2 linked regions of the Homo sapiens genome follow. The gene in region 2 interacts genetically with the main gene of each other region. Each region holds a gene or a part of one and is shown on either strand. Other genes may lie near its edges.

Evidence for each region. A genetic interaction does not mean that the proteins touch.
Region 1: changes in MAP3K8 (region 2) and COXFA4 together harm fitness less than expected from each alone (positive genetic interaction), as found in Homo sapiens cells (one large-scale study listed by BioGRID).

The regions. Positions count from the first base shown.
Region 1 is NC_000007.14:10,931,355-10,934,367, forward strand, and holds the end of COXFA4 (cytochrome c oxidase subunit NDUFA4), read right to left. Parts: intron 2,339-3,013; coding exon 2,282-2,338; 3' UTR 589-2,281; downstream 1-588. UniProt on the Homo sapiens protein: Component of the cytochrome c oxidase, the last enzyme in the mitochondrial electron transport chain which drives oxidative phosphorylation.
Region 2 is NC_000010.11:30,454,575-30,458,231, reverse strand, and holds part of MAP3K8 (mitogen-activated protein kinase kinase kinase 8), read right to left. Parts: intron 149-3,657; coding exon 1-148.

The DNA of each region.
Region 1 (3,013 bases), on a different chromosome or scaffold from region 2:
GGGCCAGGAGTAGTGACTCTCGCCTGTAATCCCAACACTTGGAGAGGCCAAGGCAGGCGGATCGCCTGTGGTCGGCAGTTTGAGACCAGCCTGGCCAACATGGCGAAACTGTCTACCAAAAATACAAAAATTAGCCAGGCATTGTGGTGGGCACCTGTAATCCCAGCTATTCAGGAGGCTGAGGCAGAATAGCTTGAACTCAGGAGGCAGAGGTTGCAGTGAGCAGTGAGCCAAGATCACGCCACGGCACTCCAGCCTGGGTGACAGAACAAGACTCAGTCTCAAAAAAAAAAAAAAAAAAAAAAAAAAAAGCACAAGCACAATTCTAAACATTCAAAGAAAAAAAGTGTGTTATCTTTCGTGGCAGCATTGGTATCTGATGCATTTGTAAATGACAATTTCTTTAGATTGCCATTGAAGTTTCTTAAATAGCAGTAATAGTTTCTTCATTAAGACATATCCTATTTCATGCCAAACTTCATATGTATTCTTACATTGCAAAGTCCAAGGATAGACACAAAGTAGAAAGATACTACTCAAAGAATTTTTAAGGATGCATAAAATGATCCTCAATTCTAGAAAACGTTATTACTAATTTCTTAATGTAGCATTTATTTGGAGTTGCTTAATGTTTTTCAATTACATGACACACTGTTTGTTTACACAATTTTAAACTTTGAGGTAATTTGTGCCAAAGGATCTAGAGTAATTCTCAACAGAGGTAGGAATGAAGCAATTTTGCCCACCAATGGACATTTGGTAATGTCTCCATTCTTCTCATAGCCTGTGGGAATTGGAGGGAAAGAGTGCTTTTTGTCTGTAGTGGCAGAGCCCAAGTTAGCTACTAAACAAGCTAAAGCGCATGGGATGGTCTGCTAAACCAAACTGTCTTTCAGAAATAGTCAACAGTGGCAAGGTTGAGAAACCCTGTTCTTAGAGGTTCAAATTATACCTGACACATAGGAGGTAAAAGCATGGAGTCTGGTAACTGAAAACACTCTACACACTCTAAATTCAAAACTACATGGGTGTAAATATCCACCATTTGACTAACAGAATGAATTCAAGTAATTCAACTCGTTTAACAATTTCAAAATTTTTGAGATAATCCACGTAATTCAAATACTTAGTTCAGTTCCTGACATTTAAAATGTGCTTCTACTACCCTGTAAACATTTAATTGTATACTTACGTATGAAAATCCAAAATTAATGTCACTGAATTCCTCAAGTTTCTATGATGTGATGACTTACACACACCTATGTGAAAACTTGCTATATTCCCCATCTTAAAATTATGAATATACTTCCTGGCCTTTGAAAACCTGCACCATGGCTAAGCGCAATGGCTCACGCCTGTAATCCCAGCACCCTGGGAGGCTGAGGAGAATGGATCGCTTGAGCTCAAGAGTTTGAGACCAGCCTGGGCAACATGGCAAAACCCTGTCTCTAAAAAAAATTACAAAAATTAACTGGGCATGGTGGCACATACCTGTAGTCCCGGCTACTTAGGGGCTGAGGCAGGAGGATCACTTAAGCCCGGGAGGTAGAGGCTGCAGTGATCCATGTTTGTACCACTGCACTCCAGCCTGGGTGACAGAGACTATCTCAAAAAAAAAAAAAAGAAAAAAGAAAAGAAAACCTGCACCCTGCACCAAGACTCAGCAGCCAAAATTCTCAAGATCTCTTGACTACTAGCACCATGGTTAGCACTGATAAACTCAGATTTCAACTTCAATCCTAGGACCAAAGCAACTTATAACCTTGAAAATCACAACAAAGAGATGCCAAGTAAAAACCATTGTTAAAAACTGCACACACTTCAACAGCCAGTAAGAGAAACTCAAAGGTTTCCATTTTGCCAGTGTCAGATGCTGGAGTATCCTTCCCAATTTACTTTTGTATAATTTCCAGTTCCAGTTGTTATGTATGCTCTAGTGAAGTTACCAACAGTCTATACACAAAATGGAAGTGTTTTACTAAAGCAGCTTAAAGTCGTATTTTCAAACTACAGAAATTCAAGAAATTCTTTAAATTCTAATAGTTAATTTCCTATACTCTAAAGTTCAGAGCATACTTTCAGCATAAAAAAGTGACACATATCAAGTTTCAGTTATTTATTGATTTAATCATTGTAATCTCCAATAGAGATTACAATAGAGATCTCCAACATGATTTCATGCATTTAGAGGAGAAATATTTCCTGGTTAAGTGGAAAATTGTGCGGATGTGGCTTCTGGAAGACCTTCATTCTAAAGCAGCGTTATAGTGAAACATTTCATTTAGAAATCTGGACGTTCCTTCTTCAGCTTGCTGTAATCCACATTCACTGAGTAGAACTTGGAACAGAAAAAAAGATATTTTAAGTAATCTCAAATACACAGAGACGGTACAAAGGTTTTAGAATTCTTTGTATTTGGTTTTCTACAGTAACAATTACAGATATGAATTTTTAAAAGAATATTTAACAACATAAAATCATTCACAGAAAAATACTGTACCTAAAATTCCAGCCTTCAATGATAGTTTTGGCAAGGTAAAAATATTCAATTTATTTCAGAAGAGCAGTATTATAGTACAGTCTACTACTTGGAACCTATAAGGAAAATTCTTTTATTTCAAAGTGAATAATTAAGAATTCCTTCTGATACATACTTCCAATTCGGTAAGTTTTTGCCTTAACTCTACTAAGTACGTGGAAGAATCGCCAACAGAATAGAGGATTAACAAGAATTACCTTCCCTACTTGCTGAATGAACTGCTGTAATTTAGAGGGAGAGATCCTGCAACAAAAAGAGGCTAGTAATATAAGGTACTGCTTTGTTTTGTGGTTTACATAACTTCTAAGATATTTTCTCTCTCTCACTAATTTCCTAATCCAGACTATATTCAATATCAAACTGACACTTCAACTCTGGTAATGGCTTTTAAATAATACGGTATTTTTGCTGTTTACATTTCCAACATTTCTTTATAATCAATTAATATTAATTTTTAGAAATAAATCTTACTGT
Region 2 (3,657 bases):
ACAGGTAGGAGGGATAGGCTGAGCGAGGGTAGCGCTTCACCCAGGGTGGGGTGCCCGTCTGCATGTGGATGAGCGTGGCCCCCAGGCTGTAGATGTCTGCTTTGGTTGAATGGCCCCTGCACAGGATGACCTCTGGGCTCATGTAAATCTGAAAAAGAAGTGGGAAACATTCAGCTTCATTCCCCTCCTTTGTGTGGGTTTCCATTTCCCTAATCCAGTTCTGGAAATTGGCTCATTTGCCTTAAACTAGGAGAATAATGCAGGCATTCCCCAGGAACCATGCAGCAATTGCTGGAGGTGTCCCTGCAGTCTGATGAAGAACACCTGGCCGGGCGCGGTGGCTCACACCTATAATCCCAGCTGAGGTGGGCGGATCAGGAGTTCAAAACCAGCCTGGTCTCTACTAAAAATACAAAAATCAGCTGGGCATGGTGATGGGCACCTGTAATCCCATCTACTTGGGAGGCTGAGGCAAGGAGAATCGCTTGAGCTCGGAAGGCGGAGGCTGCTGTGAGCCGAGATCGCACCACTGCACTCCAGCCTGGGAGACAGAGCGAGACTCAGTCTCAAAAAACAAAACAAAACAAAACAAAACACCACCTTTTTCTGGTTGATCTGGTGGCAAAGAGCCTAGAACCAGGAATCTATCAGGGACTCCCACTCATCAAAGTTCTGCAGTACACTGATCAGGTGTAGCTAAGTTTTCAACTAAAACGCCAATTCCTTTTATATTTAAATGAACTACAAACAGACTTCTTTATCTGTTTGTCATTACACTGCTAACCTTCTAAATATCTGCAATGATAAAAGGTGATAGAAGTCTATAGGGTATTAACACAAATTTCTTGAAAGGGAAAAACTTAAAAAATAAAGTGTAATATTGTAGAAGTGATTCTAAAGAGTCATTTTTACAAACTATCTGTTATTTTTACCTACTATGTAGCCCAGTGACTAAATATTAAATGCAGCCATATTAACATTGTATAAGTTATATTTGGTCTCATGAGTCCATGCTGAATAAACAGGGCTGGTTTTATAAATAGTTTCTCTAACGAGCATTTATTTCTAAACTTAAGAAAGAAACAAAGAGAGGTGGGGCATGGTGGCTCATGTCTATAATCTCAGCACTTTGGCTTTTTTTTTTTTTCGAGATGGGGTCTCCCTCTGTCACCCAGGCTGGAATGCAATGGTGCGATCTCGGTTCACTGCAACCTCTGCCTCCCGGGTTCAAGCTATTCTCCTGCTTCGGCCTCCCAACTAGCTGGGATTACAGGCATGTGCTACCACGCCTGGCTAATTTTTGTATTTTTAGTAGAGATGGGGTTTCACCATGTTGGCCAGGCTGGTCTCGAACTCCTGACCTCGTGATCCACCTGCCTCGGCCTCCCAAAGTGTGGGGATTACAGGCGTGAGCCACTGAATCTCAGCACTTTGGAAGGCCGAGGCAGGAAGATTGCTTGAGCCCAGGAGTTTGAGACTAGTCTGGACAAGATGGAGACCCCCCATCTTTACAAATTAATTAGTTACCTAATTTAATTAAACATTTTTTTAAAAAGGAACAGAGCAAACACTGGTGACCAGTGATTTGTATTCATGGCTGGTGCAGACATATAGTAGTTAATATCCTGATTATCAGTATTTCGCTTGAAACAGCTTGTACACTGTCTGCCATGTGAATAAGAGAATGGAGGTCAGTGTTTCCGGAACACATTTCAGGGTAAGTAATTAGAGAACTAGCTTACAAAAACCAGAGAAACTGCCCAGTCTCCCCACCCTAACCCTGCTCAACTCCTTCCTGCAAGCCACTTCCGGGCCAGCTTCCTTTTGCTCTCAGCAAACAGGTGAAACTGAGCTCCCGTTCTCAAGCTTTCCCTGCAGCAGAGCCAGAGGACTTTCCAGAAGGACTTTGCTACTAAATATATCACAAACTTAAAAAATTAATGCACAACATTGTACCTATAGTCAACAATAGTGTATTGTATACTTAAAAATGTGTTGAGAGGGTAGAGTTCATGCTAAGTGTTCTTACCACAATCAAATAAAAAAGAAAAAGAAATGCAATGGGTATTATTAACTGTCCATAGAGGATGCCTATCTTCTCTCCTGTACCCCCTCCTCCCTGCCAATAAAGCAAGGATTGGGCGGAGTGCCCACTGCTGGTGTAGCCCACAGGGGTTGTGCAGAGGTGGCTCTGCAGGTTCTATGTGACTGCACGCCTAGGCAGCCTGGGGGGATGGAACATCTGTAAGCCTGGTGGCCTGGGTGCTGCCACTCAGGTAGAAACCCCAGAGCTTCCTGGCTCGGAGCTCTTGTTCCTCAAGCTCTACCAACTACCAGTTAGATCAGGGAGCAGCAGGGCATAATGTTCGAGCACTCTGGCTGATTAGAAGGCATGAAACAGCCCTGGTGGGACCAACACAGGGCTCTCTGAGAGTTCTGCACCCTCGGGGCAGGGCACTGGAGCAAGAGAAAACCTTGATGTCAGCGATCGAACCCTTCACCTTTCAATATGTTTATTAGAAAGGGAAAGAGACCGTGTGTGTGCGTATATGTGCATGTGATGACTATATGTTAACTTACAAAGGTAAAACCAAGCAGACTTAGAAGGATTTTTCAAAAAGGACCAAGTTCTAAAAGTAATTCTGATTTGTTATTCGCATTCACTATGTATTCTCTCTCTGTACCTTGCAACTCAAAAACAGTCTATTCTGTATATGCTGGATTAACCCTGGATGTGTATTACATGGTTACAATAGAATGCTCTGAATACCAATGCTTAGAGAGAGCAATCAAACAGGGGTAACCAGGGTTTGCATTTGGGAGCTATACTGCAGAAATCAGAAATTGTCTATGACTGTGCAGTAGCCACATGATCAAATTCTAACATCAGCCAGTCTGCACAGTTGACTAATTAGATCTCCTGGCTCTTTAAGTAGGAAGGGTAAAAGCAAGCTTGTTGAAAGGTTTCACTGGTCACTTCACAACTTTGTTCATTATCAAACTTCAACTCGTGTGTACTAGGCAGATATTAAATGCAGGCTGATTAGAAGAGAGTTTATATTTATAAACACCAAGGCACAGTTTTGCACTTCACAAAAAGCAATTTGCATTTGCCAAAAAAAACCTGATCCAAATACTACTCAGGAGTAAAATATGTTATTATCTCATATCCATGCATTCCGCTAGACAGCCCCAGAAAGAACACTTCTTTCTCCAATGTTGCAAAATGTTCAACTTCACCACATTGCCAGGAAGAGAAAAGTATTTTCCATCTTTAATACCATAAATAGTTTGTTTTTCAAACTGGTTCCAGGAAAAAGGGTGGTGGAATATTACATATCTGAACTCCTGACTAATGCCAAATATGCTGAAACATTTTCCAAAGAAAACATGTCGTAAGCATTAAGTCTTATTAGACCTCACACTTTGGTAAAGTATTCTTAAGATCTGGGGACTAAGCATTCTTAAAAAAAAAAAAAAAGTACAGCTTCCCTTCTGAATATTGTTCTGCTCAAAGACAACCGTCAAGAATCCTCGCTCGAGCATTTTCAATAATAACTTCAGTAATATTCACAAAAGCAAGGATTTCTTCTGCTGCCCGGGAGAGTGCTGGCTTTGAGAGAGTTGAGAAAGGACTTACAGAATCTTGGCGTTTTT